Homo sapiens: one gene and its partner. The protein of the gene in region 2 purifies or fractionates together with the protein of the main gene of each other region. This does not show direct contact. Each region holds a gene or a part of one and is shown on either strand. Other genes may lie near its edges.

Evidence for each region. Proteins that work in one complex are often made in the same cells at the same time.
Region 1: the proteins of TSPAN9 (region 2) and VSIG1 purify together in Homo sapiens (co-immunoprecipitation; one large-scale study listed by IntAct). This does not show direct contact.

The regions. Positions count from the first base shown.
Region 1 is NC_000023.11:108,072,565-108,076,064, forward strand, and holds part of VSIG1 (V-set and immunoglobulin domain-containing protein 1 isoform 2 precursor), read left to right. Parts: intron 1-112; coding exon 113-268; intron 269-685; coding exon 686-805; intron 806-3,500.
Region 2 is NC_000012.12:3,082,851-3,088,606, forward strand, and holds part of TSPAN9 (tetraspanin-9), read left to right. Parts: intron 1-802; 5' UTR 803-869; intron 870-5,756.

The DNA of each region.
Region 1 (3,500 bases), on a different chromosome or scaffold from region 2:
TAAAAATAAATAAACACACATATTATTCAAAATGAAAGTGAGGAAGTGACTGCAATTGTCACAGAATGCCATTCATCCTAAAGAATTTTTATTCTTTGTCATTGCCTTACAGTGAAACCTTCTAAGCCCCTTTGTAGCGTTCAAGGAAGACCAGAAACTGGCCACACTATTTCCCTTTCCTGTCTCTCTGCGCTTGGAACACCTTCCCCTGTGTACTACTGGCATAAACTTGAGGGAAGAGACATCGTGCCAGTGAAAGAAAACTTCAGTAAGTGTAACCTGCAGTAGACCCTGGAAAGGCCTGGTGTCTGTGGTTGGATGACAGCAGGAGTGTGTGGTTGGCTGCTTGACCTTACAGTTCAATCTTCTTGTTTTCTCAGTGGTGGCGGGTGGAGGGGGGCGGCTGGTAATGTAAAAAGAATGCCTGTCTCCCAACACGATGATTGTGTTCTGGTCTACTCCCCAAATTCTAAAAGCCAGCTCAGAGATGGTGAATATGTAGGGAACAGGCATGGTCCCAGGTGAGTTAGCACTGGAACAGTCCTGAGGGGCCTAGTTGAATCCTGAACATCTCAAGAAAGAGAGGCCAATATGGGGGAGTGGGTGGACATTGAGTGATCTGTTACACTGATGTTATCTGTATGCACAGAAGAGATCTCAAAAGTCTATTCCCTGGTTTCAACAGACCCAACCACCGGGATTTTGGTCATTGGAAATCTGACAAATTTTGAACAAGGTTATTACCAGTGTACTGCCATCAACAGACTTGGCAATAGTTCCTGCGAAATCGATCTCACTTCTTCACGTGAGTTGACCATACAACTTTAACGGTTTCTCCTTAAATCAAGTAGTCTGGGCCTGTCAGACAAATAAATTAGTTAGGATCCCCAGTTAGTGCTTCCTGCTTCTCTGGAGATTTGTGTGCTTTATATACAGGCTGATATGATGAATGACCATCCTAATATCTAATGCTCACATAATAATATATGCCATATGCTGCCCTAAATCCTTTACAAAAAGCAATTTGTTTGCTTCACAAAATCGCTAGAAGGTAGGTATTACTATTCAATACTAAAAAAGAAGCCTTTCTGATAACAGCAGGCTGAATTTCTCTTTGTGATGCTGTTGGTAAATCCAGGTGACACTGTAGCTCTGACAAACATATACCTTGCAAAGATCTGCCACTAATAATAATAGTATTATAATAATAACACTCGTACCCACAATCACGGTAGCTACTATTTGTGGAGCATGAATTATGCTGAGTATTATCTCACTCTTTCCTCCCAACCACCCCTATCTAGGGAGGCAGACTATTGTCGGCCTCATTTTGCTGAAAAGAACACTGAAGCTCAGGGAAGTAAATGACTTGCCCAAGGTCATCCAGTTAGTAACTGGCAGAGCCAGGATGCCTCTAAACCTCAATTTTCCTATTCGAAGGTGCTTACTCACTCTCTGAGTGTAAGATTTAAGACTCCTGGAATTGTCCAATTGAGCTGACCCAGGGGCAACTCCTCACAAGGAATATCTCACCAAACATCTCAAGGATCACTTAATAACACTTAGGATCTTTTTTCAAACTTACTTTGAATTTGTGATTTTAATATATGCCATATCCAGGGATGGCAAGTTCCAGTGGGTTTTTGCTCTTCCTATGCACCTGAACTTTCTTCCTTTTATTTCTCCTGAAGTTTGCTCCTTTATTCTCATATCACTTTCAGCTATATTTCCTGCATCATTTCTGTTATCTTTCTTTAGAATTCCCTCAATATCTTTTTGCCTTCTCAGAGGTACAATCATACTGCAGATGTAGAGATATGTAGGATTTGGACTTGAGCATTGCTTCCTTTCTAGTCTTTTTTCCAATGATGTCCAGCACTGCCTTCCTCTCTCCCTCCCACATCCCTTCTTTCTTCCTTCCTTCCTCAAATATTTATTGAATATCTACTGTGTTCCAGGGACTGTCCTAGGTGATAAAGATACAGAGATAAAGAAGATGTATGTCCTATACTCAAGGAGCTCACAGTTCAGCTAGAGGGACAAACACAACTAAAACATGCTAAATCCTATAATAGAAGTCTGAACAGGGTCTATAGAGCACCAAGGGAGGAAAATTATGCTTATAGAACTGGGATGGCTTTACCAACAAAGTGCTATTTGAGCAGGATCTTGAAGGAACTTGCAAAGCCTCATCATCTATAAAATGGGAAAGCTGAAGCATGACGGTAGAGCAGCAGGCTTAGGAGAGCAACCAGGTCATGATGGGGGAAGAGAATGGAGGGCTTCACATGGCATGTCTCTGAGGGAAAAATCACAAGAAACTGATATATCATCTGATATGTTTGAATCAATTGAAAGAAGTTTAATGGTTTTGTTGGAAATTTCGGGATGAGTGATAATGCATTTATTAATCCCCAAATGAAGCAATTATTAACCTCCGGGAAAATTTTTGTAAATGTTGTACAAGAAAGAATCATAGTATACTGTGTTCCTCAGCTGTGAACAATATTTATATAGCCATACTACTGCAAACTTGGATTTAACTAAAACTTGTGATATAACTATTTTGGAAGAACATGGTGGGTGTGAGGGGAGTGGTGTAAAAGAGCTCAATCTCCAACTTCTAGGGTACGAAGTTGAAAGAAAATGATGGAATGGAAAAAAGGTAGGACATATCAGAGCAAACATAATAAAAACATGGGGGCAAGAAGACTTTTAAAAAGAGTTAAGAGTGGTTGCCTTTCGTGAATGGGACTCAGAAACGGGAAGGAGTCGGGCAGGGAACTGCTGTTTTTGTGAGACATGTAGTAGAACTATTTGACTTTTTAAACTATTTACTTATATTCTCTTAATCATAAAAAGTTAAAGGAATTATTATCAGGCAGCTCAAAATATAAGGTGTCCATCCTTGTGTGAGGGGAGGCAGATGGGGTTGGGTTGGCTTATAACCCAGATGTGGTCTTCCAGAGACAACACCTCAGGGCTTGAAGGTCTGGTGCTCAGCTGGATAATGTCCCACTCATTAAGTTTGTCCATAGACCGAGACAATAAACCAGATGCCTGTTTATCAAAATGGGCATATCACTTCCCAGTGACCAGAGTGCATGAGGTTCCTTCGTAAGCATTGACGCCATGGGGGAGGTTTTTAGGGACCAATTTCACCTGTGCTCTGGGAAAGCCTAGTGAAATGTTCCTGCCTGTAACAGAGGCTTATCTCTAGTGACCAGATCACAACTCCATGGTGTCTCAAGACTCTTTTCTCTAAATCCCATTTCAAAAGCAACCCCACCTCCTCCAAGTTGGCCACATTTTATTCTTTATGTGCACAAATGTCAATAGTCTTCTCCCACTGTGAGTCCAAATGACAGAGTTCTAGGGGTTTCCATTTCCCTAGCCTATACAAGTCATTTTCCCACTATGTGAATGGCCCTGATATTCCCCACTAGTCACAAACACACATTATAAAATGACAATATATTCCACTTTATTAACCAGCTGCT
Region 2 (5,756 bases):
ATTCTAATTCCCTCTGATGTTCTCCTTGACCCTGAAATCACTGCTGTGAGGCACAGAACAGAGTAGGCACAGTGGACCCCTCACGATCTCAAGAAATGAAGCTTGCACTTTCTGGCATCCCAAATTTGTATCCACAGCAATATTTGTTCATGGGCCTGGCTTTCTCCGGAGTCATGTTTCTGCAGAGTCAAATGTTTCCTGTATATATCCTCACACCCCAAGTTAACTGCCCTTTCAGTTTCTGCTGCAGTTTTATTTCTCACTTGATGGCCATTTTCCACCAAGTTTTTATTGCTCCATAAGAGTAACTTTGAATGTGGTAGAGATGAAAACAACAAGGTGGCCCTTTCCTTTATATTGACCTCATAGCGTACGCGATGCAAACACATCTCAGTGAGTTTACACACTTTTACATATCTTGAAACTTTGGGTCACTTGTGAGTGGCCAAAATTGTAATATTAAATCCTTGGATGACAAAGGTCTACCCCAGGGATGACAAATACATGGTGAGGATTCTGTTACTTCTGTAACTGCCCGTGGCAGACATCACTAATCAATCGCAGCTGTCTTTTCTGCTGGGCCAGGGCTTGGGTTCTGCTCATAATGCCTTGGGTACCCACCGCCAACTGAGTGGCATTAGCACACTGCCTTCCTGTTTGCCATTTCTGGCTTTCTCCATTTGTTGAGTGAGCAGTTTCTTGGTAGGGGACTGCTGCCCCAAAGAGTGGTCCTTGATGGACAGAATTCACCCTGGAGTGGCTTCTTACCAAAGTGATGACCTAATTTTTTGCCTTCCTGCAGGAATATCCTGGAACCTTCTTTTGTTTGTCAGCAGCCAAGGTGTTTCCAGGAAGTTCAGAGAGAACAGGTCAGTGTTGGTCCGGGTCCATTGTGGGGTAGGGCCTCTGAACGTCTGTGTGTTATAACCTCTGTCTGAAGTCAAGGTCTTTCTTGCCCTTTAACTGTGGGTTGGGCAGGATAGAAGAGGATGCTGACATTTTCTAGTTGTCGTGCCCTGACTCCTGGCTTTGATTTTCTAAGCTCCTTAAATTGGGCTTTGGGGGCCAGGCAAGAATGATCTCCTCCCCACTGTTTCTGATTGGTGGCTGATGGTACTCTTAGATTCTTTCTTGGCCACCCCATTTGTGTGGAGGAAGCCTAGGGAGAGGCCTGTAACTTCCTGCTTCCTGTCTCCTCCCAGCAGGCTTGGGAGCCAGGGTGGAGGGGCCTCCCACAACAGGCCAGAAGAGAAGATGCAGGAGTCCTGGCCAGTCCTTAGTGTCTCCATTTTGCTCTGCCCACCGCCCTCCACCAGGACCCCTACGGGGCCCTCTTCCCTGATCCTCCAGGCTCCTGGGGGTCTTGCTGATGGTTTGTTCATTGTTCCTAGCACTTGTGCATCGAGGCCTCCGCTGTGCCAGACTACAGACCAGGCAGCCAGACAGTGGGGGTGGACGGTGCTGATTCAGGTTCCCTTGGGGTGCTGTTTACTGACCTGGGCCTTTTTATGTTTAATTTATGTGTGTTTTCTCCTGCGGCTTCTCCCTGCTGGGTGATTTGTAAAATCTTACCTTCCCTGAACCCAATGGTGTAGTCGGTGGAGCAGGGAGAGGGGGTGGAATGGTGCTGGCTGGTGGCTCATCTTGCCAAAGATTCTCTTGTCTGTGAGTTCCAGCAGGGATTATTTGGTGTCCCAAGAGTGGCCAGGAACCTCTTATTGTCCTGCCATGCCTTGCACGTTATACTTAGGATGCCAGTATTCATATTTGTCATCATGATCAGACTCAGTTTTAGACCCTTTACAAATGTCCACAACCAATTTAACTTAATCAGATGAAGTTATAATTTAAATCTCATTTAACTTTCACAAAGGCCCCGTGGGGTAGCTGTCATGTCCTCCTCCTTTACCAGCGGCAGCAGGTAAGGCCCACATAGTGTTAGCCGGAGCAGGGGCTCCAGCCCAGATGCTATGACCCTGCAGCGCCTGCCTTTTCTAATGCAGACCTGCGGCTGTTCTTAACTGACTCTGGGAATCCGCTCCAGGTCCCTCCCTGAGCCTGCTTGTGGCAGGAATGCCTGAGCTCCCATTTTAAGTCCTCCTCCCGCCTCCCTGGGGCCCGGATGGGTGTCTGCTTTCATTCTTGCAGCTCTGGGATTTGAGGCACCGCGTATCACTGGATGGTGCAGTGCCGCTAGGCACATGGGCTTGGGTGGAGGAAAATCAGTCTGGTGAAGATCAGGCAGTAACCGTCCAGGTGCAGTGGCTCACGCCTGGAATCCCTGTGCTTTGGGAGGCTGAGGCAGGAGTTCAAGACTAGACTGGGCAATATAGTGAAACTTTGTCCCTATTAAAAAAAAAAAAAGACCGGGCGGCAGAGAGGGAAGGACTTAAGGACAAGGGAATGACCGTCCTGCTGTGCGGCATGTCCCCCACATCCCGTGGGGCCTGTTCCTGGTGGGCCCTGCCAGACAGAACTTGGTGAAGGGCTCCCCAGGAGGCCTGTATGGCCTTGGGGAGACACAGATAGCCCCTGACGTCACCAGCCGTGTCTATCTAGATGACCGTCTTTCCTCTGTGCATCTGCGTTGAAACCCAAGTGAGGGAGATGTGAGTGGAGGCCTCAGCAGACAGGACGTTGATCCTCTCTGATGGCTGTGGCTCCAGGGGGCTTTGGTTTTGCATTTCTCGTCATGCTCTGGAGCCATGCTCTGGGATGTTGACCAGCTCTGGGGTGGGAGGTTCTTGTCCTGGCTCCTGCTCCTACCTGTAACTGCTGTGCGAACTTGGGCAAGTCGATTGGCTTCTTCAGGCCATTTTCCTCACCTACAAAGCGGCAGGTTGGGTGACCCACTGCCAAGGTTCTTTCTGGCTCTGCTGGAGGTGGTTTCTGAGGTGGGATGAGTTGGTATGCCTGGGTTTTGGCTTCCAGTCCTGGGCCTGCCTTCTGCCTCTGACTAGTGCCTTCCCGGCCTCTGACCTGGAGGTGGATGGAGGAGGAAAGAGTGAAGTTAATGAGTAAACTGGAGATGCTGACTTCTGATAGGAGCGGACTGGGGGTGGAAGTTGTTTGCGGAGATGGTCCCCTGCCCCGTGAGTGGCGAGTGGCGGGGTCCTACTGCCTGACTTCTGTCCTGTGTAGACGGCTCTGCTGTTGATTTGGTTTAAACTCTCTTCTTCGTGCCCGTGCCTGAGGCAGTGAGGAGTAAGCCTCCATTGCTGGACTCCAGCCCTGCATGTTAATCATTTCAACTTCAATCATAGCCACAGCATAACGAAATGAGAATATCTGCCTGGAGCAGGTTAGCTTCCAAACTCTCTCCTTGCTCTCAAACCAAAAGTGTAACCAGAATTTTAGCCTGAACCAGGAGGGTGCTCTTCAGAATGGGAAGGAGATAGAAGAACCCCTTTGCTGGCATCTGGAGTTGGGAGCACGATCCTATCTGCATTTCAACCCGATACTTTGGAGCCAAATGTAGATTTTTTTTTTTTTTTGGCCTATTGTTTAGTATTATCTGTGCTTTGATTTACCACACCCCTTCCGCCCTCTGTTTTCTCTCAGGCTCCCTCACAGTGGATGGCTGGAAATTGATGATACTTTGAATATTCACTCACTTTCTGAGAGTCTTGTGACCATTTCTACTCTCAATGGTCATCATTTTTAGAACATCTGATCTTGTGTTAGGAACAGGAAAAGATCTGGTAGAGAGCAGTCCAGGGGGTCCGAAGAGTCAGGAAGCTCAGTAAGTGCCCCCTGAAATCCTCCCACCTGCTGGAGAGGCTTTGCTGTTATTGCAGGAAGGCTGGAGGGTCTTGTGGCCTTTGGGGTACAGGATCTTGGTGAGGCCTTGGCCTTGGCCTTAGTAGCTTAGGATTGCTGCTAACTCTCACAGCACGTTTGTGCGAAATTTGAAAAATGGCCCTTCTTCAGGTTACAAGCAAAAATTAAAGTGAATATATTATTGTACAGCTGGAACAAGGTCCAACTGTGTCTGAGGCAACCCCCTTGAGCCCTCGTGGGCAGTGACCCTGGCTGTGCGCACACTTGGAGGCACGCCGCCTCCAATCATGGGGTGCACATGTTGCTGGAAACACACACAGTCTGGTCCCTCCCCTTGCAATGTGGGGAATGTGTCAGGTTCAGAGTCAGGGAGAGGGCCTCTGAGGACAGTGAACAGGTGAGGGAAGTGAGCTGGGGTGGGAGGGATTCTCAGAGCAAGATTGAAACAGGGTGCAGCCATGCACATGTGTGGGTGTTAGTGACTATGTGCACACTTGCCTTACATGTGTGTTGGGTGTGCTTGCATGGGTTTGTGTGGGAGGGCACTCTGCATTGTTTTGGCACTCAGTGGAGGGGCCCACGTGTGCACTCTCAATAGATCAGTATAGGCCAGACACAGTGGCTGTCATCTGTAGGCCCAGCACTTTCGGAGGCCAAGGCGGGAGCATTGCTTGAGACCAGCCTGGACAACATAGTGAGACCTCGTCTCTAATAAGAATAGAAAAAAAAATTAGTCAGGTGTGGTAATCAGTGTGTGCCTGTAGTCCCAGCTACTCAGGAGGCTGAGGCAGGAGGATTGCTTAAGCCCAGAAAGTTGAGGCTGTAGTGAGCCATGATCGTACCACTGCACTCCGGGCTGGGTGACAGAGTGAGACCCTGTCTCAAGAAGAAAAGGGTCCGGGCATGGTGACTCACACCTGTAATGCCAGCGCTTTGGAAAGCCAAGGCAGGCAAATCATGAGGTCGAGAGTTCGAGATCAGCTTGGCCAACATGGTGAAACCCCATCTCTACTAAAAATACAAAAATTAGCCGGGCTTGGTGGTGCGCACCTGTAATACCAGATACTCGGGAGGCTGAGGCAGGAGAATTGCTTGAATCTGGGAGGCGGAGGTTGCAGTGAGCCAATATTGGCCACTGCACTCCAGCCTGGGCAACAGAGCCAAGACTCCATCTTGGAAAAAAAAAAATGTCAGTATATACCTGTGATGTGAGTGCCTTCCCCTTAGATGGCAGGGTAAAACCTGGACACGGTACCTGGGAACCCTGCTGACGGCCTCTCCCCTGGCCACCTGCCAGTGTGGAGACTGAGGCTTAGGGGCCCAAAGCTCTCCGACAAGCCCTGAGGGTGGCAGTGCCAGGGACAGTAGGAGAAGATCCTGCCTCAGCAAGTCCCCAGCCCCGTCTCAGGGCCAGGCTCTACAGGAGGGCTCAGAGGGGCAGGGTGCCCAGCTGAGTTTGAATGAACTGTGTCTTTCCGGGTGTGTGAACATGCAGGATGACATGTTTTGTTTTAGAGAAAATGAGGTAGAGGTCTGGGCTTGCAATTTTCCACTTGTCTTAATCCTGGGAGATTCTAAACAGCTTTGTTTAAAAACTGGACATGCAGATTGCAAAGACCTGAGTGAGGAAGAGCCATTGGGTCCCCCAGGAAAACAATTAGGTTTGAAGCCAGAGTTTGGATTTGTTCGACCATTTTGAGTGCTGTCTGCAGCATGTGGGACCTGGAGGCGCTTACAGCATCACCCATGGTGTGAGTCACTCCAAATTAGCAGCCATTTCAAATTGGCTTCCACTGACTTGCTGCTGGGGATGGGTGGGGCTGGGGGGGAAGCTCCAGGCCTGGCTGTCACCCATCATCCAGGCTGTGGCCGGCAGAGAGGGGAGGGGGCTGGAACAACCTGTCTTGGCTCAGCCTGCCCCCACTGTTGGCCAGAGAAGCTGGAGCTGGTGGTCTGTGAAGGTCTCCTGGACGGAG